4 linked regions of the Homo sapiens genome follow. The protein of the gene in region 3 interacts with the protein of the main gene of each other region in a biochemical or structural test. Each region holds a gene or a part of one and is shown on either strand. Other genes may lie near its edges.

Evidence for each region.
Region 1: the proteins of ANXA2 (region 3) and CTSB form a complex in vitro, tested with the Homo sapiens proteins (one study listed by BioGRID).
Region 2: the proteins of ANXA2 (region 3) and PLAT form a complex in vitro, tested with the Homo sapiens proteins (one study listed by BioGRID).
Region 4: the proteins of ANXA2 (region 3) and TRPV5 form a complex in vitro, tested with the Homo sapiens proteins (one study listed by BioGRID).

What each region holds. Positions count from the first base shown.
Region 1 is NC_000008.11:11,844,078-11,851,100, forward strand, and holds part of CTSB (cathepsin B isoform 1 preproprotein), read right to left. Parts: intron 6,904-7,023; coding exon 6,789-6,903; intron 5,088-6,788; coding exon 4,969-5,087; intron 4,076-4,968; coding exon 3,990-4,075; intron 3,746-3,989; coding exon 3,602-3,745; intron 3,092-3,601; coding exon 2,975-3,091; intron 1,713-2,974; coding exon 1,584-1,712; intron 1,146-1,583; coding exon 1,048-1,145; 3' UTR 1-1,047. UniProt on the Homo sapiens protein: Thiol protease which is believed to participate in intracellular degradation and turnover of proteins. Cleaves matrix extracellular phosphoglycoprotein MEPE. Involved in the solubilization of cross-linked TG/thyroglobulin in the thyroid follicle lumen.
Region 2 is NC_000008.11:42,183,558-42,190,580, forward strand, and holds part of PLAT (tissue-type plasminogen activator isoform 1 preproprotein), read right to left. Parts: intron 5,515-7,023; coding exon 5,377-5,514; intron 4,460-5,376; coding exon 4,349-4,459; intron 4,016-4,348; coding exon 3,841-4,015; intron 1,616-3,840; coding exon 1,524-1,615; intron 1-1,523. UniProt on the Homo sapiens protein: Converts the abundant, but inactive, zymogen plasminogen to plasmin by hydrolyzing a single Arg-Val bond in plasminogen.
Region 3 is NC_000015.10:60,352,966-60,359,988, forward strand, and holds part of ANXA2 (annexin A2), read right to left. Parts: intron 4,272-7,023; coding exon 4,181-4,271; intron 3,034-4,180; coding exon 2,954-3,033; intron 1,249-2,953; coding exon 1,189-1,248; intron 1-1,188. UniProt on the Homo sapiens protein: Calcium-regulated membrane-binding protein whose affinity for calcium is greatly enhanced by anionic phospholipids. It binds two calcium ions with high affinity. May be involved in heat-stress response.
Region 4 is NC_000007.14:142,930,736-142,938,619, forward strand, and holds the start of TRPV5 (transient receptor potential cation channel subfamily V member 5), read right to left. Parts: upstream 3,012-7,884; 5' UTR 2,725-3,011; coding exon 2,597-2,724; intron 1-2,596. UniProt on the Homo sapiens protein: Constitutively active calcium selective cation channel thought to be involved in Ca(2+) reabsorption in kidney and intestine. Required for normal Ca(2+) reabsorption in the kidney distal convoluted tubules.

The sequences.
Region 1 (7,023 bases), on a different chromosome or scaffold from region 3:
TTAAGCAAGGGCAAGCTTACCAGGCACTTACAGAGAAGGTTGACGAGGATGACAGGGAACTAATTGGGGGAGGGATGCCATGGTTGAAAACATGGCTGGGGCAGCGAGAAGTTAAGATGAAGTCCCAAGAGTCGCAAGAACATGCAGTTCCAGGACGTGATTCTCTGCAGGGACAAAGAGAGACAGCAGCTACAAGTCTATAGGCAGTGACAAAGGATCTGAGATCCCATCAGAGTAGACTTCAAGTTGGAGAAAACTTTTATTGGCACAGGCATTCCTTGTTAACTTGACAGGGTGAAGCTGTAATTTTTCAAAAACAGTAAAAGCTGGTTTCTCCTAAACTATTTTCCTTGTGGTAGTAGAGATCAGTGGGTCAGAAACAACTCCTGACCACTTGGTTTCCTTTTGAGCCGCGTCATAAGGAGGCAATCTGTAAAACTAGCACAGGTCTCCCGCTGTTCCACTGGCTCACCCACATGATTAGCAGAGTGCACGAAAAAATAAAACTTCTATTAAAGAATCATGCTGAGCACAAGATCAGAGAGGTTGTGACATTGCAAACTCGATAGATGCAGGGGGCCTGGGAGACTGGCGTTCTCCAAAGGGCTCCCAACACCGTCTCTCCTCTGATTTCTGTGACAAATGTGGAAAGCTACTTGCTTGGAGGTACTGGGGGAACTGATGGGGGAACTTTCATCCTGTTAGGAACTCCGCTTTCCATTCCTGCGTCTCTGTCTTGCTCCCTGGAGATGGATGGATCACGGAGGGGGCCACAGTCAGCTGGGGCAGCAGGTACTCCCTACGGCACTAGTCTACAGGGGGAAGGACGCTCTGTGCTGGCAGCGGTGGCTCACATGGCCTGTCTGCACTGTAACCACAGGCTGGGATGTAGCCAGGACTTGGTCTCCTTGGAAGACAGGTCTGATGTTTGGCCAATCCAGTCCTTCAGACCCTGTCTGAAACTTGTATCTTACGTGAACTTAAAGAATAAAATGCATTTCTACCCCGATCTCGCCCCCAGGACTGGCACGACAGGCCCACGGCAGATTAGATCTTTTCCCAGTACTGATCGGTGCGTGGAATTCCAGCCACCACTTCTGATTCGATTCCACAGTGATCCTGTCCTCTGAGTATTTTAAAGAAGCCTGGGAATAAAAAGTAAGGTGCTTTTAAAGTGTGACAAGGGTCAACCAATATAGTCAGACTCATCCTTAAAAGACCTTAAGTCACTCATCCCTGGCCACTCCTGCTGTTGGCCCACTAGCACAGTCCTCAACACCACAAGGCTTCTGGAGCCGTGGGGCACACCTCCACGGGCAAGCCCCCTGCCCGGTCACCCTTCCCATCACAGGATCTGGCGCGATGCTGTGGGAACTGTTGCAGGCGTTGGCTCTGAAGCTGCTCAGAGTCTGCCCTCACAGCAAAAGGGAACTCCTGACTGCCTGGCACTTAGGAGGAGCTCACAGCCTGGCCGTAGGTCCAGGGTTTAAGGCTGTGCGGTGGGTAGAACAGAGAAAGCCGAGATGGCCACGGGGTGTGGCTCACAATTCACTGTTCTTGGCAGGAAGGGGGCAGCCACTCACCATTGTCACCCCAGTCAGTGTTCCAGGAGTTGGCAACCAGCCAGTAGGGTGTGCCATTCTCCACTCCCCAGCCCAGGATGCGGATGGCATGGCCACCCATCATCTCTCCGGTGACGTGTTGGTACACTCCTGAAAAGGGAAGAACTGGCTGAGACCGAGACCGGGCCACTGTCCCACGCCCCACAGCACCCCCCACACTCAGCTGGTCATGCTCCGGGAAGGAGAAACAGCTTCCAGAGGGAACCTGCTGCTCCACCAGGAGGCTCCAGGGGGGGTCCCACAATACTGGGGAATTAAATATATTTTTGAAGGCCCAACACACTCAAAGTTGTTGAGTAAATATTGAAATAGATTCCTACAAAATGTGCTTGTTGGCTTTAAAAATAGAATTTCTAATACATTCTAATTGATAAAACATTTAATGCTAGATGACTGATTCATCTGTTCTTTATACTGGGATTCCATGTAAGTAAGGGTTTGTCAAAAGCGTTACACGGCTTAAAGAGTTTTAATAGCTGCTCCAGGTACACCCTGAAGAGGTGAGGGAGGAGAAGGGAGGACTGGTGGCAGCTAATGCTAGCTGATGGGAAAGATACTGGCTAAGGGGCTCAGGGCTGCCCAACCAGGCTCTCGGGTGGGGAAATCACTGTCAAAGTGGAAATGCATCTTTTAATAATAAGGGCGAGGACTATGCTAAGAAGTGCCATCTTCACAGAAACTTTTTCTTGCCAGAATCATCTTCCTTTGTCAAACTGTTGTTTTACAAGTTTCCAATCTAGCAAAATATTAATGGGATAGATGCAGTCAGCAAAGACTGTTCATCTGGAGCAAGGGATTTCTAAGACAGGACTTGGGGATGGGGACTGTCCAGATTCCTTGGTTGGAGTCCCTATGGCACTACCCAGGGCAAGGTCCTCCCTGTGTGTTCATCCACTGGTGTGAGGCACGATCTAGGCCTTTGCAAAGAGAAAGATGAAGAAAATGTGTCAGCCAGTGCAAACACGAACGGCCTGCCATTATAACAGAAACATGCTGGTAAAGCAATGCAAAGCCAGGAAGGCGAGGGCAGGCGTGGCCAGCCACCAGGGAGGGGGGCGTTCCCACAGAGAACATGTATGAGCTGGACGCTAATGGATGGGAAGGAACTAGCCCAGAGGCTCTGGGAGAGGCCTCTGGAATTGTGTGTGTTGGCACAACACCTGGACAAAGACAGTCAGGTGCCAGGCTGGTCCACAGAGGAGTGAGCCTATATGGAAGGCCCCACACAGCCCTCTTCCCCAGCCCCTCACCTGCCTGCCCAATCCAGCCCTATTGGTCAACATGAACCATCCTGGCACCCAGGCTCCCCTCCCGACCCCCACCCTCTATTGCCATCAGCCATCAGCACGCACCTGACTTGTAGAGCAGGAAGTCCGAATACACAGAGAAAGCTCCCTCCACGGGGCCGTTTTTGTAGATCTCGGCCATGATGTCCTTCTCGCTATTGGAGACGCTGTAGGAATTGTATCCTGGAAAATGAACCGAGCTCGGGGTTGGGGAGGGCAGTGACCGTGCCTCGTGGCACGCCACGGTCAGCCAGTCACTGATTTCTGGTGGCCTCCAGGGGAAGACTGCATCTAAGGGGACTTGCCCTGCCAGGGGAGCTCAAGGAAGGCTCCCCTGAAGAACTAAGGACAGGGCTGGGGCTGGAAGCTCAGAAATGGGAGAACGGAGCAATGAGCACGAGGCCCCGGAAGAGGCCAGGATACCTCAAGACTCCAGGACACGCCACTCCCTTGTAAAAGGAGGGCTTTGGTCCCTTCCAGTTTGGAAGGGCTGAGGCTGAGTTCAGGGTGGAACAGGCAGAAAGTGGAGAGTGTGCTGCTTCTCCTGGCAAGAGGGCATCACTCCCCCTCCTCTATCCTAGAGTTCCGGGACCCCAAGGCTCCTCAGCCCTGACCTCTTCGCTGCAGCGTGAGGAGGGATGCAGCAGCTCCCCAGCCTCCACGTGCGCCGTGGCCAGGCCCCAGGCCCCTTACCGTAGTGCTTGTCCTGTTTGTAGGTCGGGCTGTAGCCAGGCTCACAGATCTTGCTACACTTGGGGGTATCTCCCTCCCCCGTGCATGGGGGCCGGGAGCCGTTGACGTGGTGCTCACAGGGAGGGATGGAGTACGGTCTGCACCCTGATGGGACGCGGGAGAAAGCGGAGTCAACCTACAGCCCCCACGGAGAAGACCTGGGGCAAGGCAAGCCTCGTGCCTGCAGCATGGACGCCAGGCAGGTCCTGCCAGAGGCCTGTGCACCTGGCTAGCACCTCTCAGCAGCCCCTCTGTCTCAACCCCCAGTTTATAAAGGCAAATAAAGCCATGATGGTTAATTGCTCAAACAATCCATCTGGCCAGAAAGTGGCCAAGGGGACACACTTACCTACATGGGATTCATAGAGGCCACCAGAAACCAGGCCTTTTCTTGTCCAGAAGTTCCAAGCTTCAGCAGGATAGCCACCATTACAGCTGAAAAGACAGCCTCTAATGAAAACCTCTGAGAGAAGCACCACCAGCTCTCCAGACCACTGTGTGCTACCCAAGTGCCCGAGGCCACTCGTGGACCCACCCCCAGCTGCAGCAAGTGGTGCGAGCAGACCTCCCAGACCCCAAACCCTCCAAGGGACGCTCCCTAGATAAGCACAGCTTGCAGGGAATAACCGCCAGCCCCACCCCTGCCCACAAAGATCCGGGAGAAGACAGGAGGCTCTCCTGTTCATGTCCATACCAGACCAGGCTACGAGTGCCCTTCCGGGTAGAACACTGATTCTCAACTGAGCAGACGCTAAACTTCCCTAAGGTACTTAAAAACACCACCAGTTCTCTGAAATGAGAATCGCCAGTGATTCCCATTTAACTAGTTAGGGGAGAAGCCCATGCATTTTTTTAAGCCCTCAGGCATTTCGGATCTGCAGCCGCCAGTGAACACCGCTACTGCGGAACCAAGGCGAGGCTGCAGGCAGCTGGAGCAGAAAGTTCTGTGCCACCACCTTGTTGTTAAGGTGGAGCCATCCCCGCTAACTACACATAAGGAAATGCCCCAAACTGGTTCCCCAAGCAGGAAAAAGGAACATGCGATGACACAAACCAGACCAGGGGCCAGACATTCCACCACATTTTCTGAAACTGACTGTTTTGCTGGGATGCCACCCCTCAGACAGCTCTGCCGGGCCAGCCTTGGTTCAGGCACCTCCCAGGAAGCAGCAGCCTTGCCAGGCCCTGCCTGCCAGACTCTCGGAGTCTCCCCGAAACACTTCTGACTCGCAGCAGTCCCAGGAAGTCCTCAAAGTCCCCTCCACTGAGAAGCTGGGGCCCAGGGTCTCTCAGCACTAAACCCGCTGTGGAAGCACAGCCTGACTCACCCGTCCCCACACATGCTGCCACAGCATGTGAGCAGGTCCTCCGCCGACACCTCCACGCTGACGTGCGCATTGGTGTGGATGCAGATCCGGTCAGAGATGGCTTCCACAGCCCCGAAGGCCTGCAGGAACGAGCCCCACCGGGTGAGGCTGCCATGTCCGGGCTGGGCCCTCTGCAGCAGTCCCCTCAAAGGGCCACAGGGGCACCTCAGACCTTGTAGGCAACTGATCTCTCAACACCAGGGGACGCTCCTGGGGCTCAAACTCAGCTTTTATTTTCTTTGGTAGAAATGGGGTCTTGCTACGTTGGCCAGACTGGTCTTGAACTCCCGGGTTCAAGTGATTTGCCCACCTTGGCCTCCCAAAGTGCTGGGATTAGAGGCGTGATGAGCCACTTGCCCCACTCTCCTGCCTCAACGATTTGCCCAACTCAGCTTTTAAAGCAAGAGAAGCACCCCCGTGAACCTCTGCCTGGAAACTGGGTTCATTTCTGAAATCTGCAAAATGTGTAGTATTAGTTTGTATGTGTGTGTGTGGTTTTTTTTTTTTTTCCTGGAGGCGGAGTTTCACTTTTGTTGCCCAGGCTGGAATGCAGTGGCGCAATCTCAGCTCACTGCAACCTACGCCTCCTGGGTTCAAGCAATTCTCCTGCCTCAGCCTCTATAGTAGCTGGGATTATAGGTGCCTGCCACCAGGCCCAGCTAAGTTTTGTCTTTTTAGTAGAGACAGGGTTTCACCATGTTGGCCAGGTTGGTCTCAAACTCCTGACCTCAGGTGATCCGCCTGCCTCAGCCTCCCAAAGTGTTGAGATTACAGGCGTGAGCTACCGTACCTGGCTGTGTTTTTTTCTTAACAAAAAACACAGCTCACCCAGAAAATAAATACTGTTGTGATCCACTTGTATGAGGTCCCTAGGAGTCAAATTCATAGAGACAGAAAGTAGAGTGGGGCTTACCAGGGGCTACAATATTGGTGTTAATGGGGACAGAGTTTCTGTCTTGCGAGCTGAAAAAGAGTTCGGGGGACAGATGGTGGTGGTGGCTGAGCAACACTGTGAATGTACTTAATGCTACAGAACTGTACACTTGAAAATAGTTGCTGGGCACGGTGGCTCACGCCTGTAATCCCAGCATTTTGCGAGGCCGAGGAAGGCAGATCAACAGGTGAGGCGTTTGAGACCAGGCTGTCCAACATGGCAAAACCCCATCTCTACTAAAAATACAAAAATTAGCTGGGCGTGGTGGCACATGCCTGTAGTCTTAGCTACTGGGGAGACTGAGGCAGGAGAATTGCTTGAACCCAGGAGGCAGAGGTTGCAGTGAGCCAATATCCCACCACTGCACTCCAGCCTGGGTGACAGAGCAAGACTCCATCTCCAAAAAAAAAAAAAAAAAAAAAAGAAAGAAAAAGAAAACAAAAGAAGATTGCTAAGATTATTACATTTCTGTTACGTGTATTTTACCACAATTAAATGACAAAATTAAGACAGCTCACTGACACTAAAGGGATGCTTTCTTGAAGCAGAGTAGCAGTGAGAGCTCCTGGTATTTGCGGACGGGCCAGCATGTCAGGGAAAGGGAGCTGCTTCGCCACCTGTACACGTGGACTTGCAATCTGCTGGATGCTCTGCCCGCCACTCCACCTAATCCTCGCCATCATTCATGGCCAGAGGGATTGTGATTTTTGTACTGATGGAAACTGGGACTCAGAAAGTTTCTATAACTTGCCTTGTCAGAGTTGTCCCCACCCCGAATCCCCCAAGACTCTCCAGTGTTGCTCCCACTTTCTCTCCAGCGCTTCCCCGCCAGCCAGCAGGGCCTTACCCAGCAGGAGCCACAGGAGCCCTGGTCTCTGATCTCTTTGATGGTGGGACACTGTGGCCATTGTTCCCGTGCATCGAAGCTTGCAGGCAGCTTCAGGTCCTCGGTAAACATAACTCTGGATAAAGGAAGGTCTTCATTACAAGCTCTGATCCCACAACTCCCTCCCCAATCCCTGCAAAGGCCACTTTGGCTGGGCCACACTCCCCTAACAAGGAAATGAGCACAAGACATGCCG
Region 2 (7,023 bases), on a different chromosome or scaffold from region 3:
TCGGACTGTGTCTGCCAGTGTCCTGAGGATCTGATGATGGGCTTGGGAAGGAGGAGGGTATGAGCCGTGGAGTGCTGCCTGTTTTCATTTATTTCCCCCATTTTTCCATTTTTTTCTCCCGACCTGAAACTGACAAAGCATACCTCTATACATAAATACCATAAATGGAAGGGATTTTCAAGATTATCTAGATCTGCGAGTCCTCATTTAGACCAGACCATGGGGGATGGGGAGGATATTGTAGAGTGACTGTAAAGTCTTCAGAGTCACAGGCATCACCCGTGGACCTGGGTGCTGAATGCATATAGCTGGTGCGTGTTTATATATATCATATATAAATTTAATATATGTGTATTACATATATATATACACACACCCACACACATATTTATGTATTTATTTTGAGGCAGGATCTCACTGTCACCCAGGCTGGAGTGCAGTGGCACAATCATTGCTCACTGTGGCCTCAACCTCCTGGGCTCAAGCGATCCTCCCACCTGAGCCTCCCAAGCAGCTGGGACCATAGGCACAAGCCACCACACCTGACTAATTTTTGTATTTTTTGTAGAGATGGAGTCTCACTTTGTTGCCCAGGCTGGTCTCAAACTCCTGGGCTCAAGCAGTTCTCCCGCCTCAGCCTCCCAAAGTGCTGGGATTATAGACACGAGCCACTGCACCTGGCCCTATATATATTTAGAACTTAAAAAAAATCTTTCATAGTGCTGTGATAAATGTGATAAGTAACGTAATGATTTGTATAAGCACCACTGAATTCATAGTACCTTTCTGTAACTTAGCATTTCATTTTTTTCTTTTTTTTGAAACAGTTTTTTGTTCTATCACCCAGGCTGGAGTGCAGTGGCATGATCTCGGCTCACTGCAACCTCCATCTCCCAGGTTCAAGCAATTCTCCTGCCTCAGCCTCCTGAGTAGCTGGGATTACAGGTGCCTGCCACCGTATCCGGCTAATTTTTGTATTTTTAGTAGAGACAGGGTTTCACCATGTTGGCCAGGCTGGTCTCAAACTCCTGACCTCAGGTGAGCCGCCCGCCTCAGCCTCCCAGAGTGCTGGGTTTATAGGCATAAGCCACTGTGCCTGGTCTTGTAACTTAATATATATTTTTTCAATCTTGGAAGTTTTTTTTTTTTTTTTTTTGCATTAAAAAGTTTGAGAGGGAGCGAAAGAGAGACAAAGCCCCATTCACCCATTAATCAAAAAAGGGAGAATCTCCATTCATTCTCAAAAGGACTGAAAACCACTGATTCAGCCCCATCCTCTCCTCCATAGAGGAGGAAATTGAGGGTCAGAGTGTGAGGAGATCAGCTCCAGGTCAGACAAATAGCCAGTCAGAGGCCAAGCCCAGGCACAGACCTAAGTCCTGTCTTTCTTCCCTCTGCAACCAAAATGACTCACTCCTGGCCTCCCCCTTTCTCCCCTCAGGTGCAGGAGGGCTATCGGCCTGTCCTCCTGGACTTTCCTCCCCCAGGGACATTCAGGGAAAGGCGGGGTGGCTGCCACTTACCCTCAGAGCAGGCAGGGGTGCTGCAGAACTCTGAGCTGTACTTCCCCGCCTTAAAGACGTAGCACCAGGGCTTTGAGTCTCGATCTGGGTTTCTGAAAAATCAGCCAAGGGAAGGGCCAGGGTAGGTCAAAGGTGAAGCCTCTCCTTTAGGACCCAAGGACTTTGGTATCCTTTTCTGGAGGAATGGGGGGTGCTTTTTTTTTTGACAGAGTCTCGCTGTTTATCCCAGGCTGGAGTGCAGCGGCGCATCTCCTCTCACTGCAACCTCCGTTTCCTGGATTTGGGCAATTCTTCAGCCTCAGCTTCCCGAGTAGCTGGGATTACAGGTGCCTGCCACCATGCCTGGCTAATTTTTGTATTTTTAGTAGAGACAGGGTTTCACCATGTTGGCCAGGCTGGTCTTGAACTCCTGACCTCAGGTGATCCACCTGCCTTGGCTTCCCAAAGTGCTGGGATTACAGGCGTGAGCCACCACGCCCAGCCGGGAGTGCGTTTTTGGTTGTACACTGGTAGTTCTATCATGTTAGGCAGGAGTATGATTTTGTTCCTGTGTTTACTTGGAGGTGAAGGATGGTTTAAGGAGATGCACATGGGTGCCAAATTGACAAGGTGTGGACTGGAATAGTCTTATATGTCAACTTGGCCAGGCTGTGGCACCCAGTCAGTTAACCAAACATTCATCTAGGAGTTGTGAAAGTGTTTTATAGATGTGGTTAATATCTACAGCCAGTTGACTTTAGAAAAGGAAATTGTCCTAGATAATGTAGTTGGGCCTCGTCCAATCACTTAAAGGCCTTAAGAGCAAATATGAGGTTTCCTGAATAAGAAATTCTGCCTTAAGAGAGCAGCCTCAGCTTCTGCCTGCACTTCCAGCCTGGCTTACCAAGATGTTTCGGACTTGCCAGCCCCCACGATCCTGTCAGCCAGTTCCTTAACATAAATGTCTATCTATCTAGTGTGAAAGGAAAATAAATCTCAGGACCCCAACGTCATGAGCCAAGGGAAATGTCAAGCCGGGAACTACGTCAGGCAAACCTGCCTCTCATTTATTCCTCAATAAGATAGCTGCAAAGTTTTTTTTTTTTTTTTTTAATTCTCTACAAGGACATTCCTTGCAGGCCTAAAGATCTTTACCCTAAAACAGTTCTGTTGACTTTCACCTTGGCATTGTAAATGGATAGCTTATCTTCCCAGGTGCAGGACAGAAAATCATCCCTCTGCTCATCTGAGACAAATGCGTATCTGATTGCTTCCTCTGCCCTATTTTTTATGTAAAAATGCAGATGAACTGAGCCAGACTCAATTGTGTGTTCAGTGAAAAGCTGATCAAGGACTCAGAATACAGCCTTTTGTCTCTTATCTACCTATGGCCTGGAAGCCCTTGCTTCGAGTTATCCCAACTTTCCCGACCAAACCGATGTACATCTCACACATGTTGATTGATGTCTCATGACTCCCTAAAACGTCTAAAGGCAAGCTGTGCCCTGACAACCTTGGGCACATGTCCTCAGGACCTCCTGAGGCTGTGTCACGGGGGTGTCCTTAACCTTGGCAAAATCAACTTTCTAAATCGATTGAGACCTGTCTCAGATACTTTGGGTTCACACACATTCTCTCTCTCTCTCTATTTCTCTCTCCTCTTTCTCTATCTCTATCTCTCTATCATCTATCAATCTGTCTATCATCTATCTATCTATCATCTATCATCTTACATCTACTATCACCTATGTATCTATCATCTATCAATCTTCTATCATCTATCAATCTATCTATCACCTATCATCTATCATCTATCATCTATTTATCATTATCATCTATGTATCATCTATTTAATCATCTATCAATCATCTATCATCTGTCAATCTGTCTATCATCTATGTGTCTATCATCTATGTATCTATCATCTATCTTTCTAATCATCTGTCTATCATCTACCACCTATCATCTATCATCTATCCATCTATCATCTATCTACCATCTATCATCTATGTATCTATCATCTATTTATCTATCAATCATCTATCAATCTATCATCTATCTATCACCTATCATCTGTCTATCTGTCATCCATCTACCGTCTATTTATCATCTATCTATCATGTATGTATCATCTATTTATCTAATCTATCACCTATCATCTATCATCTATCAATCTATCATCTATCACCTATCATCTATTATCTGTCTATCATCTATCCATCTATCCATCCTGTATTGGTTATGTTTCTTGGGAGAACCCTGACGGATCTGACAGAATCTTTCCCCAGCTGTAGCAGCTTCTCACAGGGGGAATCCCTCCTTGGGGATGTGCCCTCACCTGCAGTAGTTGTGGTTCCCCAGGCCCAGCCTGATGGCGTCTGGCCTCCGCCCGCTGTAGGGCTTCTGGGCCAACGCGCTGCTGTTCCAGTTGGTGCACTCGGCGCCACTCTCCGCTGTGCTCCACGTGCCCCTGTAGCTGATGCCCTGGTCCTCGTAGCACGTGGCCCTGGTATCTGACAGAGAGCAGGGCATGGATGCCTCACATGGGAGTCCCCTTTCATTCAGCCCTCAGGAGGCTCCCCTCTCTGCCCCGTCCTCCCCCAGGCCTGATGCAGGCTGGCTCGGAAGCCACAGGCTGGGTGGCAAGGGTGCCAGCCTGGATTCAGGGTCACACCTAGGCTCTGCTTGCTGTGTGGCACTGTGCTTCCTGACCCATGGCAGAAGCGCCTTCCCTGTCCCTGGCCCCCACCCCTGGCCCTGCCATCGCACCCTGCCTTTCCTTCCGGGGGCGGGGGAGACTGGAGAGGTGGGATTTCAGCTCGTTTCACGTGCTCTCACCTACTCACCTATTTCACAGCACTTCCCAGCAAATCCTTCGGGGCACTGGCACACGAAATCTGAGAAGTACAGGGCCTGCTGGCAGGTGCCCCCGTTGAAACACCTTGGCTCGCTGCAACCTGTCAAGTATAAAAAAGGAAGCCCCTAATGACAGCCTCCTTCTGTGTGCTCAGGCCATGGTTCCAGGAGCCCTGTCTACCACAATCCACACACACTCAAGTCCTGCAGCGTGGAACACGCGTATACCAGTTCTGCATCCTACAAATACTGTTTTCATCCTGCCTTTGGTTGAAAAAAATCCATACATAAGTGGACCCTGCAGGTCAGACAAGTGTTGTTCAAGGGTCCCCTGTATTTTCAAAGCAGCTCCAAGGATGATGTGAGTTAAAATATTAAGAATGTGCTCTATGTGCCAGGCGCTGTTGTACAGTCTACAAAAATTAGCTAATTTAATCCTCACAGCAAACCATGAAGTGTGTACTGTTATTCCCACCTCTTTATAGATGAGGAAACTGAGGCAAGCGGGCATTTGCCCAAGGTCACTTGGTCTTGCTCCCTTTTCTGCTTGTACCTTCACCTCCGCCTAAGGCCGAACAGGCCTGGAGGCTCCTTTTGAAGATTTGAACTTTCCGGGGACCATGAAAGACAGGGTTCATGACTGGACCCCTGAACTCGAAGTCTCAGTTTGAAGTCGATTTGTACTGGGCTTTTCTGTGTTTTTGTTTTTGTTTGTGTTGTTTTGTTTTGTTTTAGAGGTGAGGGCTTGCCCTGTCACTGAGGTTGAAATGCAGTGGCACAATCGTAGATTACTGCAGCCTCCAACTCCTGGGCTCAAGTGATCCTTCTGCCTCAACCTCCCAAGTAGTTGGGACTACATACCAGGTCTGGCTAATTTTTTTATTTTTTGTAGAGACAGGGGACTTGCTATGTTTGCCCAGATTGGTCTTGAACTCCCGGGCTCCAGCGACCCTCCCACCTTGGCCTCCTAAAGTGCTGGGATCACAGGCATGCACCACCTCCCAGCCTCAGTACATACTTTTGACAGGCACTGAGTGGCACTGTGCCCTGCCACTGTTGCACCAGCAATATTCCACCCGGTTGCTTCTGAGCACAGGGCGCAGCCATGACTGATGTTGCTGGTATATCATCTGCGTTTTTTCATCTCTGCAGATCACTATGAGAAAAGACAGGCCAGCCTCATCAGAGTATGACTCAAAATGAAATGCCTCACTACCCTTGCACCTACTGAGAAAACTCCCTCACTTGCTTTCTATAGACTCCATTGCATACTCCCTTATTGAAGAGACACAACTGGAAGACAACAAGATAATGAATACTGGCCAAACACGGTGACTGATGCTGGTAATCCCAGCACTTTGGGTGGCCGAGGTGGGTGAATCACTTGAGCTCAGGAGTTCGAGACCAGCCTGGCCAACATGGTGAAACCCTATCTCTACTAAAAATACAAAAATGAGCCAGGCATGGTGGCAGGTGCCTGTAATCCCAGCTACTCAGGAGGCTGAGGCAGGAGTATTGCTTGAACCCAGGAAGTGGGGGTTGCAGTGAGCCGAGATTGTACCACTGCACTCCAGCCTGGGCGACAGAGCAAGACTCCATCTCAAAATAAAATAAAATAAATTTGCATTTCTTTTCTGAGTGCCATTGAGTATCTTCTCATATGATTTATTTATTTATTATTTATTTATTATTATTATTTTTGAAACAAAGTCTCACTCTGTCGCCCAGGCTGGAGTGAAGTGGCACAATCTCGGCTCACTGCAACCTCCACCTCCTGGGTTCAAGTGATTCTCCTGCCTCAGCCTCCCGAGTAGCTGGGATTACAGGTGCCCGATACCATGCCCGGCTAATTTTTGTATTTTTGGTAGGGACGGGGTTTCACCATATTGGACAGGCTGGTCTCGAACTCCTGATCTCAAGTGATCCACCCACCTCGGTCTCCCAAAGTGCTGGGGTTACAGGCATGAGCCACCGTGCCCAGCCTAATTTTTTCTTTTCTTTTCTTTTTCTTTTTTTTTTTCGAGGGTCTCTGTCACCCAGGCTGGAGTCCAATGGTGCTGTCTTGGCTCACTGCAACCTCTGCCTCCCAGGCTCAAGCAGTCCTCCTGCGTCAACCTCCCAAGTAGCTGGGACTACAGGTGCACACCACCACACCCAGCTAATTTTTAAATTTTTTTGTAGAGGCGGGGTGGGGTGGGGGAGGCAGAGGTGTCTCACTATGTTGCCCATGCTGGTCTTGAACTCCTGGGCTAAAGCCATCCTCCTGGATCCGCCTCCTAAAGTGCTGGAGTTACAGATGTGAGCCATTGCACCTGGACTTTTTCTCATTGTAATTCACCAAAAAATATATATATGCATAACTGTCTACCAGAGTTTTTTATCCACATAAGTATTACCACACAGAAATGATGCATTTTTGGCCCCAAAGAAAATTGACATTTTAGACTTTGCAGAAAATGTGCTACTTCTCCAAGTATTTTTGGCATAATGAAAATAGTTGAAGTACTCCCATTAATATTTTCATGCCATCTTTCTGTTTTCAAGCCAGAATGCCAACTTAAAAAACAACAACTTTACTTTCAATTAATTAAAGAAGTAGCACGTGCCCACTGTAAGTCAGACCCTTGCTGCTTCTGAGGTCACTGAGGCCAGGATAACCTGGTAG
Region 3 (7,023 bases):
GCTACAAGTAGCCCTAACAATGGCAGGGAGGGCAAGAGGAAGAAAGGCTTATGCAAGGGTAGATATTCATTCCGTGATCTTCCACCATCTAGGAACTGCAAAACCCAACTTCTATTACTTTATTTAAAACCCTTCTCTACTACCTGCTAGAAGTGCCGTGTGGAATATATTGAATTTTAAAACTAACATTAATTTAAATTAATTTTTTTCTGCAGCTTTTATGACTTACTTTGAGATAATCGTTGTCCCTCTGAGTAAAGAATATAGTTCATTGCAGTCTGAATAAGCTTAACAAATAGTTCTCAGAGATAATGGAACTAGAACTGGCAAAAGTCTTATTCAGCCAGAAAAGGACAGGTCTCTGCTGGCCTCCCTTTCTCCCCCACCACAACAGAGCAGTACACCATCCTGTCCCTGGCTGTGTCTCCTCCACCTTCTTCTGCTTCCCACCTGCCTGCCTGATTGGTATGCACAGCCACATTACACTCTGCAGAAACTGATGCTTCCATACAAGCAAAGCCTGAGTGAGCATATGTGAGTCACGTATTGATTCTGTAAGTAACACCAGCATTATAAGAGAATGTCTTCTAATAAACATTGCTGTCAGACTATGGTGGGTTTAAAATACGGCCAGAAATTCTTTGAGGTTCCTCCCTTCCAAAGGAAGAGCCTAATCCCCTCCCACTGAGTGTGGGCTAGACTCAGTGACTCACTTTTAATGAAAAGAGTATGACAGCAGTGCAAGGTGGGACTCCTGAGGTTAGGTCATAAAAGACACTGTGGCTTCCTCTTTGCAGATTGCTTGCTCTGGGGAAAGCCGGCTGCCATGTTGTGAGGACGCTCAAACAACCCCATGGAGAGGCATATGTGGAGCGATTCTAAGGTCTCCTACCAACAGTCATGTGAAGTGCACCATCTTGGAAGCAGATTCCCTTGACCCAGTCAAGCCCTCAGGTGACTGCAGCCATGCAACATTTTGTCTGCAACCTCAGAAAAGACCCTGAGCCAGAACAATTGGGCTAATCTACTCCTCAATTCCTGACACACAGAAACTGAGAAATAATACATGTTTGTTGTTTTAAGCCACAGAGTTTGGGAGTCATTTGTCACACAGAGTTAAATTACTATATAGACTATCCAGAGACTTACCAGAAAACAAAAACTCAAAGCAAAAAGCTCAGCACTTACCCGAGCATCTTGGTCAATCAGTTCATAATCAATGACAGAGCCATCCTCTGCTCTTCTACCCTATGGGGGAAAGAAAAAGAACTTCAAATACATTTCTTTGTGTATTTTAAAACTGAAAATGTTTTCTCCCCAGTCCATGTACGCCATTATTTAATTTCCTAAATAAGTAACCACGTAAGATTTTTCTTACTTTGAAACATAGATGGGGCCGGGCACGGTGGCTCACGCCTGTAATCCTAGGACTTTGGGAAGCCAAGGCGGGCAGATCACGAGGTCAGGAGATGGAGACCAACCTGGCTAACAAGGTGAAACCCTGTCTCTACTAAATTAGCCAGGCGTGGTGGCACATGCCTGTAGTCCCAGCTACTCGGGAGGCTGAGGCAGGAGAATCGCTTGAACCAGGTTGCTGTGATCTGAGATCACGCCACTGCACTCCAACCCTGGTGACAGAGTGAGACTCTGTCTCAAAAAAAAAAAAAAAAAAGAAAGAAAGAAAAGAAAAAGAAAAAGAAACCTAGACCAGCCAAGGAGTGGTAAAATCATTGAGCAAGGAAGTGGGGGCTGTGCCTTGCCATCAACAATCCCCCCCTTGATACCCAGTCCTGGCCTACACACCTTACAGAATCCCTGTCCCCATCCCCCACAAAAAGCTGATGAGATTTAGCTCTTTCTCACAGAGAGCTTGCAATGCAGATGGAGGAATATGTGGAAACAAATGTAAAGCAGCCCGGGAACCCACAGCACTAGAAAGACACAAAATGCGGGCGGAGGAAGAACTCTCAGAGGGCAGAGTCAGCAAAGAGTGTGAACGATGGGCCTGGGCTTAAGCTGAAACTTCAAGGGTCAGTCAGATGCAGCTAGCCAAGCAGAGCGGGAGAGCCAGCTGGCACACAAGGGATGGCACAGCACGCTCTCAGGTAAGTAAGGAGCTGCCCTGTCAGAGCAGAGCTGAGCGGGAAAGATGAGCAAAGAAGATGCAGGGAGGGTTTAGAGGACCTTTCACAGCAGTTAGGAGTTTAAATTTGATGCAGCAGAAATGGGGTTTGAACAGAGGAGTAAAATGGTGAAAGTGTATTTCACAGAGATCCGTGGATGGTGGTACATGGGGCAGGTGGTAGCGAAGAGAGGAGAGCGAGGGAGAATGGCATAGGAGTTGTTGCAGTAATGGAGATGTGAGTGGGCCGGACGCACTATCTGTCATTTGTCATCAGGGTTCCCAGGGTCTCTCGTCCCTCCCCTGGCACATAAGTATTAAGCTACACGCTGGCCAGAACTAGGGATTCACAGGGGAAATGCCCCTTCCTCCATGTTAATGTGTTAATATTAGCAATCAGCTCCACAAAGACAACTCCACCCCAGACAAAGGACTATATGGGCAAATTCTTCCATGAGAAGTAAACGCAGTGAAAAAGAAACCAGAAGGTCACTTCCCACTGGGTCCTGCATGACCACAGATAGAGGCAAAGTGACCTTCCCTAAGTCACACGGCCAAGGCTCTGGCACATAAATCCAGGCCAGGACTTGAGAGCCGCCCATCCCTTCTCTGGCTCCCAAAGTCCACTTGTCCATGAGGTTTTGCAGGATAAGAAATCCTATTATACAAAATTGACAACTCTGCAGTGACAGTGCAAACCCACTTTCAAAAATGCAGCTGAATTTCTGATGCAGGCACAGGGGATTTAGTTAATTCACTCCAAGTATAAAATGAGGTATGTGACTTGCCTTGGGAGGAAGCAAGGGCAAAGAAAGAAACTGGGAAACCAACCTTTGCCAGGGCAACCATCAGCTTGCGGAAGTCACCAGATGTGTCCGAAATAATGTCCTTCTCCAGATCAGTCTTGTACACTTGGAGGAAAATACATCTGGTTTTATGCTTTCTGCCTGTGTAGCCAACCATCCACCCCAATCTCCCCATTTCCCACTAAGACTCTGAGAAGCAGAACAGCTACGTCAGCTGGACATATCCATTCTCCTTAACCCCAAACAGAGGAAGGATTCACTAGAATGATTTTCGCCCTCATGAAATCAGAGCCAGAGTTATTATCCATAACAGGGGGCAGCAGGGCTAGATCAAATCAGGGATCCTCAGGCTCACCGTTGATTGGTGACCTCTCGTGTAGTTTAAATACTGGCTCCCAGCCCTCCTGACTGTGAGTACTTGTTCTGAACATCAAAAAAATTGGAGGTCTACACACGCACACACACACACACAATTGTGCTTTACTGTCCACTGAGAAAATGCACAGCGGCAAAAACTACTAAGAATTAAACAATGCTTTTGAATGAAAGTATATTTCAATATTCAAAATAGCATCTATATTGAAATACAGTAGCTAGAGAAGAACTGTAATGTTCCTGATACAAAAAAAAAGATAAATGTGTGAGGTGATGGATATCTCAATTACCCTGACTTGATAATTACATATTATATATAATACATGTACCAAAATATCACATGTACCCCCAAAATATGTAAAACTATGATAATAACTTTAAAAAGTAAAACAAAAAAGAAATGCAGTAGCGATGTAAGTTGCATTGTTTATTCCCCTCATAGCCTTCTATACTGCTAAGTGTGCACCAGTCCACAGGGGTCTCTTGCTGTAATTCTTCAATTATCCACAGTCCAGAGTTGGCAACCTCTTGAGCAGACACTGAACAGCGCCCAATAAGTGGAATCCATATATAATACTTGCTACTTCTCCTCATCCGATCTTGTTTAAAAACAAGTTTTGTTTTCTCTCCTTTCCCTCCTGTCTACCCTTCTTCTAACACAGAAGTTCTAGTGGAATGTAATAATCAAAATGCAGGCAATGAGGAGGTGAAGGAGAGAAACTTGGACCACAGCCAACCTTGCCTGCATAGTCAAGGTGGCAGGCACTTCTGCACATCACTAATGCAGGCATCTTAGCCCGAACCCTAACCCCAGTGGCCATGATAGAGTCACATAAATTGGGCTGAGAGGATGAATCACAGAAATCAAGCTACTCACTTTCCTTGTAGACTCTGTTAATTTCCTGCAGCTCCTGGTTGGTTCTGGAGCAGATGATCTCAATGAGAGAGTCCTCGTCGGTTCCCAGCCCCTGTGAACCAGGAAGCACGAACATCAGCAGGGAAATGCTTCCCCACCATTAGCCTACTTCTCTGATCTCCATCAAGTAAATTGCAAACATGGATTGGGTCTGTTAGCATCCTGCTTTCTACATTCCTTCTGAAGAATCTATACTCCTACCCCTTAGCACAAAGTAATGGCATTTTCTATTCCTTTAAAAAATGCTTCACCAGAGCACAAGATGGTGGAACTGGCATGTTGGAGTTCAACTGTTAATATGGTTTTTTTTTTTAAGTAGTGAATAGGGGCTGGGCACAGTGGCTCACGCCTGTAATCCCAGCACTTTGGGAGGCCAAGGCAGGCAGATCACGAGGTCAAGAGATCAAGACCATTCTGGCTAACACAGTGAAACCCCATCTCTACTAAAAATACAAAAAATTAGCTGGGCATGGTAGCGGGCGCCTGTAGTCCCAGCTACCCTGGGAGGCTGAGGCAGGAGAATGGCGTGAACCTGGGAGGTGGAGCTTGCAGTGAGCCGAGATCGCGCCACTGCACTCCAGCCTGGACGACAGAGTAAGACCCCATCTCAAAAAAAAAAAAAAGTAGTGAATAGGAAGAGGCAGCAATAGAATATGCCAAAATACTAAAACTGGCAATTGCCTTTTGCTGTGGGTAGATAAAGTAACTTTTTCTTATTATTATTTTTCACTTTCTACAATAACCACTCACTATTTTAACAGATTAGAAATTTCTTTGTTAAACAATTCTCGCTAAAATAAAGGAATACAGAAATTTTATGTTGTCACTTGCAGCCAGCATTGTTAGAGTAAGTCTTTTTACCAGGCAAAGGTATAGTTAAGAAAAAATTTTTAGCTGCACTCTTTGAAATGTAAAATTGGGTTAATGTTAAAAATTTCATTCTTGTCCTTCCATTTTTGCTTGATAATTATGCACTCTTCAGGCACTTTAGGGAAGCAAAAAGAAATAATGAAGTGCCAAATAAACCTAGACACCAACACTTTATTAAGGAATAAGAATTTGATGGGTGATGTATTCAAATTTAATATATACACTTTTGAGCATGTCAGATAGCTTGAAAGGACTCAATGAAACATGTATTTCAAAGCTGGCTTCATGATCAAAGTCAAGATTTAATAATCAGGATTCTTTAATACTTGTCTTTCCGAATATGGAACTATCACTTTGAACTAAGTAGAATTACAACTGTTTAAAATGTAAATCAATTATAAGGTGTTAATACAATAAGAAACTTACCCACATGAAAAGCGTGTCAGCTATTAATTAAACTTATTAGCGTTTATATGCCCCGAAAAAGTAGTTTGTATAATATAAGCTAAGCCTCAGGTTAATGGTTAATTTTGAATTTTATTCTTCATCTAACCTTTGAGCCAATGGCTCTTCTTTCTGAGTTTTTAATCATGATTTGTAGAGGTTCCAGCAAAGCCAAAAATTCTCCCCTTGTTAGCAAAAGGTCCATACAGCATTCTACACAAATGTTATTAAATGACTACCGAGTATCTTTGAATATTTTGAGAGGCAGTTGTTCAATCTCAAGGATGATAGAAATATAGTCTAAAAATAACACACAGTGGGAGAAATGTTATATCCTGACATTGTAGAATTGCAAGACAGGCAGAATAATGTAAGATGTGTTTCCTTCCATCACTGATATACCAGTGGTAATATCTGAGAATTCCAATAGTGTTTTTATGTCTACATTCAAAGGTGACCTTGGCAATTTCCAAAGCCCGGCCCAAACTCTCCACAGACTGTCCACAATTCCTATCACAAGGGCAAATTCTACTGTAACATATGGCAGATACTGCCACCGGTACTGCCAGAAGTCAAAACAGATTTTTTTTTAAGCATAGTTCAGTTAATGTCACTTCAAGCTTTATGGATTTTGGACGGGTATTCAACTGTGATAGCTAATGGAAGAGCTGGCACAGGGTCAAAGCTTCAGCAGTTAAAGCACCTTCCATTGGGCCCAATTACATAGATTACAACAGTGACTGACAGCTCAAAAAGGTCTGTTTCAAGTCCCTAATACCTAGTAATAGATACCAGTAAAGCCACTCGAATCACAACTAAATAGATTCTTGATGAAAATAAGACAAACTGATCTGAAGTGTTGATGGTCAGAAGAAACCTAGGAGAGGCTGACTCATCCCTGCCTCCAAAGGTCCACAGACTCGGTTTTCAGGAGCGCTATTTTTATCAACCAGGATCATGAAATGTTGTCGACATTTTATCATTCTTAATGACGTCTTTTCTGCAGTACAGTCTACTTAGGAAACTCAGACAAGTCCGCTAAAATAAACTGAGCACAGCTTGGGCTAAGCTGAAGAACTAAAGGAAGAAAGAGACTTAACAACAAATCTTACAGCAGCCCTGAGCTATCAAATTCCAGGCTTTGGAGATGCCCAGTGTCCGAAGCACCCTCACTCTTGTGTTCTCTGGGAAAAGGATGACAACTGAACTGTGACATTAGCTCTGGTGACAGGCTTACAGCTCAGACTGTTCATAATTCAGGAACAGTGGCATCAGAGAAAACAGACTCGGAATAAAAAATCAAGACCAATGGTTTCCCTCATCTACAGCGCAGACTTTACCCATGTATATCAGCAGAGGGCAGTGTCGGACTGTTCAAATGCTGCAGACCCACACTAAGAAAAGGGTCCAAATGTGTTGCAGTACAACATACATTAATGTGTGTGCATCTATTGCATTTATATAAAACTTGATGTTGGCCAGGCGCGGTG
Region 4 (7,884 bases), on a different chromosome or scaffold from region 3:
TGGTCTGAGAGTCTCTAAGAAGAGGACCCTAGGCTTGGCTGAATTCATCTAACCTGAGTAACTGTCTCAGATCCTGGATAGTTGGAGAGCGGGACAGAGGGCACTTCCATCTGCGGTCCCCCTGCTCCTGGGCCTGCTGAATCTACTGTCTTTAACCAAGGGGAGTTTGGGAGACCAAAACACAGAGGGAGGAGGAATGGATCGACTGCTAGATCTTTCCTAGGCATTTTGAAATTTGTGAAATTTGTGAGGCACTAAAGTTCTGACTACTCCCTCAGGCTATTTTTTTTTTTTTTTTTTTTTTTGAGACAGAGTCTTGCTCTGTTGCCTAGGCTGGAGTGCAGTGGTACAATCTCAGCTTACCGCAGCCTCTGCCTCCCAGGTTCAAGCAATTCTTGTGCCTCAGTCTCCCGAGTAGCTGGGATTACAGGCACGCACCACCACGCCCAGCTAATTTTTTGTATTTTTAGTAGAGATGGGGTTTTGCCATGTTGGCCAGGCTGATCTCGAACTCCTGAGCTCAGGCAATCCGCCTGCCTTGGCCTCCCAAAGTGCTGGGATTACATTGCGCCCAGCATCCTCAGGTTATTTAGATACAGGTCCCTGCAGGGGGTGGAGAGTTGTGGGGTGAGTTACAGGGTGCCTCTTTCTTCTGCATTATACCCTTAGATGCAAAGGTCTAAACAGCTTGTTTATGTGGGTGTCTCAAGGCAAAACAGGTTGAGATACTCATTCTACAGGACCTCTGTTAATCTTTGCTTCTACCATACCCAGATTTGAACCCAGAAAGAGATAAAGCTGGAGCCTCTCCAACTAGACATATGTGTATTGGCCCCAAAGGCAAGCACATGGTGTAGGGGGAAGAACAGAAAGGACAGGCCGATGAGTGGCTCCTCTGAGGTCCCCACCTCCAAATCCCTCTCTTCCAATAGCCCCAGGAGCCAGGGCGAAAAAGTGTTTTTATTTTATTTATTTATTTTTTTTGAGACGAAGTCTCACTCTATTGCCCAGACTGGAGTGCAGTGGTGCGATCTCGGCTCACTGCAACTTCCGCCTCCTGGGTTCAAGTGATTCTCCTGCCTCAGCCTCCCGAGTAGCTGGGACTACAGGTGCCCACCACCATGCCTGACTAGTTTTTTTATTTTTGGTAGAGACGGGGTTTCAGCATGTTGGCCAGGCTGCTCTCGAACTCCTGACCTCAGGTGATCCACCCATCTCGGCCTCCCAAAGTGCTGGGATTACAGGTGTGAGCCACCACGCCCAGCCAAAGTGTTTTCATTTAAAGAAGAAGCTTTTAATCTAAAGGTGGGGCCTGGTTTTACCTGTTAAGGCAGTGCTCCTAGGAGGGGCCTTTGTGAGGAGTCAGTTCCCTGCCCCGTCTCACCCAGGGAATCAGTCCCAGGGAGCCTGGTGTCCCTGACCAGCCTAGAGTGGTCAGGGCTGAGATTGCAAATTCACCCCCATCCTGAGGCCACTGCACAAACAAAGTCCTTGCCTCCCTGGCCCTCTATCCCCACTGCCCCTCTGCAGAGGGTCCAAGTTGGGGCTGGAAGCTCACTTTCTCAGAGACCCAGGGGTCCCACTCTAAAGCAGGAAGGTGAGATTCCACTGGAGGTATTGGGTGGGGAGATGAGGAAGCAGAGGGCTTGACAGTATGAGGGCTCAGAGGTACTTGGGACCAGGCCCAGTGTAAACTGCAAATGCAGGACCCCTTGTTCAAAATTATTAAGAACTTGAAGATGAGGACAGCAGGGCATTGAACAAAGCACAGGAATCTTCTGGAGTACAGGGGAGCCCTTTGTGACTGCTAATGTCTGCTCAACAACCTCACCCCTCAGGCAGCTGTTGGGTGGGAGGCAAGCCCCAAAACACTTGGAGGAAGAAGCAGCCCACAGGATTCGTCCCTGCCCCAGCTGCTCTTCCTGGGACTGGACCTCAGGGCTAAGCCATGAAATGATTTACCTGCAGGTGTGCTAGCCCTGCCCGAACTAAGAGCTCTCCAGGAGCAGGCACAAGTCTCATTCAATCTTTATGTCATTGGGATCTAACACCCCTCTGCACACAGTAGACTCAATAAAAGGCAGATGGACTGAACTCAGAGCCCTCCAGTGTCACCTGAGCTGCCCTCCTCCACTGGTCAGCACCCAGTGTTACACCAAACAAAGCGCTCCTCCCCTTTCCCACACAGTCCACTTTCATTCAAATGAATGGCGTTTCCTTATCGTGCTTCCACCACCCACAGGAGTGCATCCCTTCTTCAGCAGCCTGCTTCTGCCTTCCCTCCCCATCCCACACAACCTGGCTTCTTCCCTCTGGTCCTTTTTGGTCCTTTCACTCCCCCTTGGCTGTCATTCTGCCTCTGTCCTTAGGTCTACCCTCAAGATTTTCCTGTGTGGCCCAAAGCCACATCCTCCACCGCCACTAAAAGGGGCCAGCTGGGATTCTGTAATTAGGTGGGCTGGAAGGAAAGGGTATGTCTGAGTGACTGGCACTGACAATACACTTCTAGGGTGCTGTATTCGGAAAGCAGGCCCAGGTGGGTCAGAGGGTCTGAGGATCACGGCGGTAGGGCCACGGATCGTTCTAGGAAGCCTACCTCTTCTGCTGCAGCATATGAAGCTTGTCCAGGTGCTGGTCCCAGTCTTGTTCTCTGACCAGAAAGGAGGGCAGAAGTTTCTGGAGTTGGCTCCCGGGCCCTTCTGCCTTAGGTAGAAAACCCCCCATGTCTTCTCCTTGCAGACACTGGCAGATTATAGAAATGTGGCGAAAGAAACAGGTCTAGGATGACAGCAACTGAGCAAGAGATGGGGTCTATTTGGGGCTGGGACTCTGAGTTTATCTCCTGTATGACTTGTGTATGCAGCATGCAGCTTGTAGGTGTGTGTGTGTGCATGCAGTATGTGGGTTGTGGGGTGTGCGTGTATGCACAGTGTGTGGCTGTGGTGTATGTGTGTGCATGCAGTGTGTGGTTGTGAGGTGGTGTGTGTGCATGCAGGTGCGCTGAGGGGACTGACCGCCCTGCCTGGGGAGAAGTGCTTTTCCTGGAGGGGGAGGAGCTCTTTGCAGAGCTGAGCCCCACAGCCACAGAACCACCCTGGGGAAGAAAAGGAGGAGGGGAAGGAAGGTTCCTAACTGTGGGCTGGGATGGCTGAGACCCGAGAAGCTAAGAGGTGGGGCAGAGGAATTTGGAAAAAGAAAAGGGATGGAAGGTGGGTCCACAAACAAGGTGCACAGTTAGTTGCATGAGGGAGAGGAGGAAATAAAGACTTCCAGCTCAAGAGTCAGGCAGAGCCTGGTTCAAATCCTGACTCTTATCCCTTACAGTTAGGTGAGCTTTCTGAGCCTCAGTTCCTAACCTGTGAAATTGGGGTAACGGCTATGCCGTCTCACGGGAGCATCTGTAAAGCATGTGTCACAAGTACTCAATCACTGCCGATCCTCCTTCCACAAGAGGGCTCAAGAGACCCCCGGGCTGCTTCTCAGAGCTTCCCATTTATGTGTCTTGTGGTCATCTCTGTCCTCAACCCTGTACCTCAAAGGAGGGTTTCTGACCCCCACTTCCCAGGCCAATCCCTCTCTGTGAGAAGTCCTCATGACCGTGACCGGCCAGCTTCCTGGAGCGTCGCCGAGCAGGCTCTGGTACCTGGGGACGCAGGTCAGAGGAGCCCCCAGGGGCCTCGAGTTATTATGGAGGTTGAACAGCAGAAACTGAGCAAAGGTAGACGACAAATAAATCGTGATTCCATGTTTGGGACTCTTTCCAGGAATGAAACACCAGGAGGAATAAGTAATGTTGCACTATTTTATATATTTTATATTATATTTTATATATTAAGTAGTTTCCCTTATCCACAGTTTCACTCTCTGATGGTTCAGTTACCTAAGGTCAGCCACAGTTGGAAAATAGGTGAGTACAGTACTATAACATATTTTGAGAGACAGAGAGAAAGAGAACATTCACATAACTTTATATTATTATAATTTTCATTTTATTGTTGTTAAACTCTTTTTTTTTTTTTTTTGAGACAGAGTTTCACTTTCGTTGCCCAGGCTGGAGAGCAATGGTGTGATCTTGGCTCACTGCAACATCCACCTTCCAGGTTCAAGTTATTCTCCTGCCGCAGCCTCCCTAGTAGCTGGGATTACAGGTGCCCACCACCACGCCTGGCTAATTTTTGTATTTTTAGTAGAGACAGGGTTTTACCATGTTGGCCAGGCTAGTCTCGAACTCCTGACCTCAGGTGATCTGCTTGCCTCGGCCTCCTGAAGTGCTGGGATTACAGGCGTGAGTCACTATGCCCGGCCTAAACTCTTCACTGTGCCTAATGTATAAATTAAACTTCATCATATGTATGTATGTATGTATGTATGTATGTATGTATGTATGTATGTATGTACGTGTAGGAAAAAAGATAGTATATACAGGGTTTGGTGCTATCTAAGGTTCCTGGCATCCACTGGGGCGTCTTGGAATGTATCCCCTGAGGATAAAAGGTGACTACTGTATATGATAGCTTGTATTTATGTTCTCATTTTTTTTATTATTATACTTTAAGTTCTAGGGTACATGTGCACAATATGCAGGTTTGTTACATATGTATACATGTGCCATGTTGGTGTGCTGCACCCATTAACTGTCATTTACATTAGGTATATCTCCTAATGTATCCCTCCCCCCTCCCCCAACCCCACGACAGGTCCTGGTGTGTGATGTTCCCCTTCCTGTGTCCAAGTGTTCTCATTGTTCAATTCTGTTCTCATTGTTTTCAAAGAGGTACATCAATATTATTGAATTGCATTCACTCAATAGACCTATCAGGTAAATGAGAACAAGGAAGAATTCCGTCTGTGAGAATTCTTGGGTGTGCTGGCCCCAAGTCCCATGGCTAGTGGCGAGACTGTAACTGGCCATGAACTTGGGATCTCAGCTCCAAACCACTCTCCAGACCTTGTTGCTTCTTGGGAATCTTTTGGCTGTAAAGGTGTGAGAGACCAGCGTGAGGATACGCTGGGACTCTCCCTCTGGGGGTCTTGAGGAGTGGGGACTGCCCCCTTCTTTTGTTGTAAGAAAGAGAGATCTGCTCCCAAGATTGAGGGATGGACAAAATAACCTTTAGAGAAGGACAAGAATTGAAAGGAAAATAAATAAGGAAACTAAGAGGAGCTAGTGTTCATTGATGTTTCAAAAGGGGGAAAATTTGGATCTTTTTCTTATTAAAAGCCAAAAGGAAAAGTTAAGTAAAAAAAAAAAAAGATACAGTGGAATTATGTTCTCACTGGGAGTGGGGAGGGCTCAACTTGTGGGACATTTTTCTGCCTCGCTGGGGGTGACGCCCTTGTGGAGTGACTTCCAGTCTAAGGAGATGGAGGGAGCGATAAGGGTGAGGTGGGGGTTGTAGATGCCTTGATAAGCGAGGCAGGTCAGGAAAGGAGCACCTGCCAAGGAAACTACAACCCATAAAGCTGGTCCTGGGGCGGGGGGGTTGGGACATGGGGGGCCGGCAGGGGAGGAGGCTGGCCCAGTCTGAGCTGCACAGAGCAGGTGTGCAGGGACTTGCCGCCAAGGGCATGTCCAGGGGTCTGGGGAAGAGAAAGGGGAGGCCCAATGCTCAGGCCCCCCCACCCGCCATCCCTGGGCCTTCGCCCTCTCACTTGCCCTTCTCTGCCTACCTCGTCCTCTCCAGTGGGAAGGGCATGGACAAGTAACCTGGGTGAGGACCATGGTGTCCCCCGGCAGTCCCAGCTGGTAGACCAGAGATTTGGAGTCTCTCCTGTTCTCTCCTTGCCTTCTCTCCAGACTGTTTCTTCCTCTTGTGATATTCGACATCACCATTCTATTTTTCCTTTTCTCTCCTTTCTTTTCATGCCTCTCTCAGCTTTCTGCAAGTGAGGACATCTGCAAACTCTCGCCTTCAGAGAGCAGCTTCCCTGCCACTGATGAATGGTCAGTAATGCCTCCAGGCACTCGGGAGAACTGGGCTGGGGGCACCAAACTACACCGTCAAGTCCCAGAACCCTTCACGCCAAAGCAGCCTGACCTCTTATTCTAACATAATAAAGAGGAGGAGGAACCATAATACCTAGATTTCCATTTTTAAAAATTACACTCCCACCCTACGTGGCCACAGCCATCTACGAAAAGGATTCAGGGCCGGATGCGGTGGCTCATGCCTGTAATCCCAGCACTTTGGGAGGCCGAGGCGGGCGCCTCACGAGGTCAGGAGTTCGAGACCAGCCTGGCCAACATAGTGAAACTCCGTCTCTACAAAAAAAAATTAGCTGGGCCTGGTGGCAGGCACATGCAATCCCAGCTACTCAGAAGGCTGAGGCAGGAGAATCACTTGAACCCGGGAGGTGGAGGTTGCAGTGAGCTGAAATTGCGCCTTTGCACTCCAGCCCAGGCAACAGTATGAGAGACTCCATCTCAAAAAAAAAAAAATAGAAAGAAAGAAAAGGATTCAAATACCATACCTTAAAACTAACTGTGGCCAGGCGCAGTGGCTCACACCGGTAATCCCAGCACTTTGGGAGGCCGAGGCGGGCAGATCACCTGAGGTAGGGAGTTCGAGACCTTCCTGACCAACAGAAAGAAACCCTTTCTCTATTAAAAATACAAAATTAGCTGGGTGTGGTGGCACATGCCTGTAATTCCAGCTACTCGGGAGGCTGAGACAGGAGAATCACTTGAACCCAGGAGGTGGAGGTTGTAGGTGAGCTGAGATCGTGCCATTGCCCTCCCGTCTGGGCAACAAGAGTGAGACTCCATCTCAAAAAAAAAAAAGTGATTATCACTGGATGGTGGAATTATTAGCCTTTTTGGGGTTTTGTATTTTTCTATATTTTCTACTTTGTAATAAGAAAAAATATTTAAGGGATTCCCTGTTTTCTGCAAGAATTTATCTCTTTTAACACTGCGGAGGTCAGGCGGGTGGTGGTGGCAAGGAAATGGAAGTAATGGAAACAACTCAGTTATTTCCACTCAAGCCTGCCCGGGAGGCAATTCTCACCCCAGCCGCCCTCCCCATTCATTCCCACAGAGCTGGAGATGGCTTCTCTTTTTGCCAGGAAACCAAGAGGCTGCTCCCCCAAAATAGCCAGGAGGGAGGAGATTAGTGATGGTTTTTTCCATTCAAGCATCATTCTTTGGATCTCACGTCAATGGGTTCAAGGTGGGGTGAGCAGGGTCACCTGCCTACTTGAATCTTTCCTTACTCACCTTCAAGCGACCTCCGTACCACTCCCTAGTCCCTTGTCATCTGGCTTGGACCATCAGGAAGTGTGTAAGAGATGGTGTCTGCTGTATGTGAGACAGCATCCATGTGGGCATGTCTGCTAACACGAGTAAACTCTGTGGGAAAGCATCTCTTTGTGTGTTTCTGTCTGCAGTTCCCTCTTGCAGAAAGGGTGCCTGTCTCCGCAGTGTCCTTGGACCTGCATGTGGTATTTCATTCAGGTCTGGTATGCATGGATGAGCAGGAGCAGTGTGAACTGGTTATGAGAGTTCAGGAGTGACTAAAGTCTTCTCTTACCTGTCTTAGCAGCCATCCTGCATCTAATGGCCTATGTCTCTGTTGCTGGTTTTCGAAAAAAGGCCTTCATTCTGTCTCCCTAACTCACAACCCTCCAACCATCTCTGCCCAAGAAGCAGTTGGGGGTGATTACCCACAGCCGGTTACTGCCAACAGATCTGTGCTCACCAGGCTCATGGGCAGGAGGCGCATCCAAGTACTGAGGCAGGATTCTCCCAGATCTGTTATTTGGGATCCTAGACTCCCTGCCGCACTGCGGCTTCTCTGCAGACTCTAACTCCTTTTGCCAAGCAATGAGGTTGGAGATGAGCCTCTAACAACCTTTTCTTTCGTCTAAGAGTACAGAAAGGTGTAA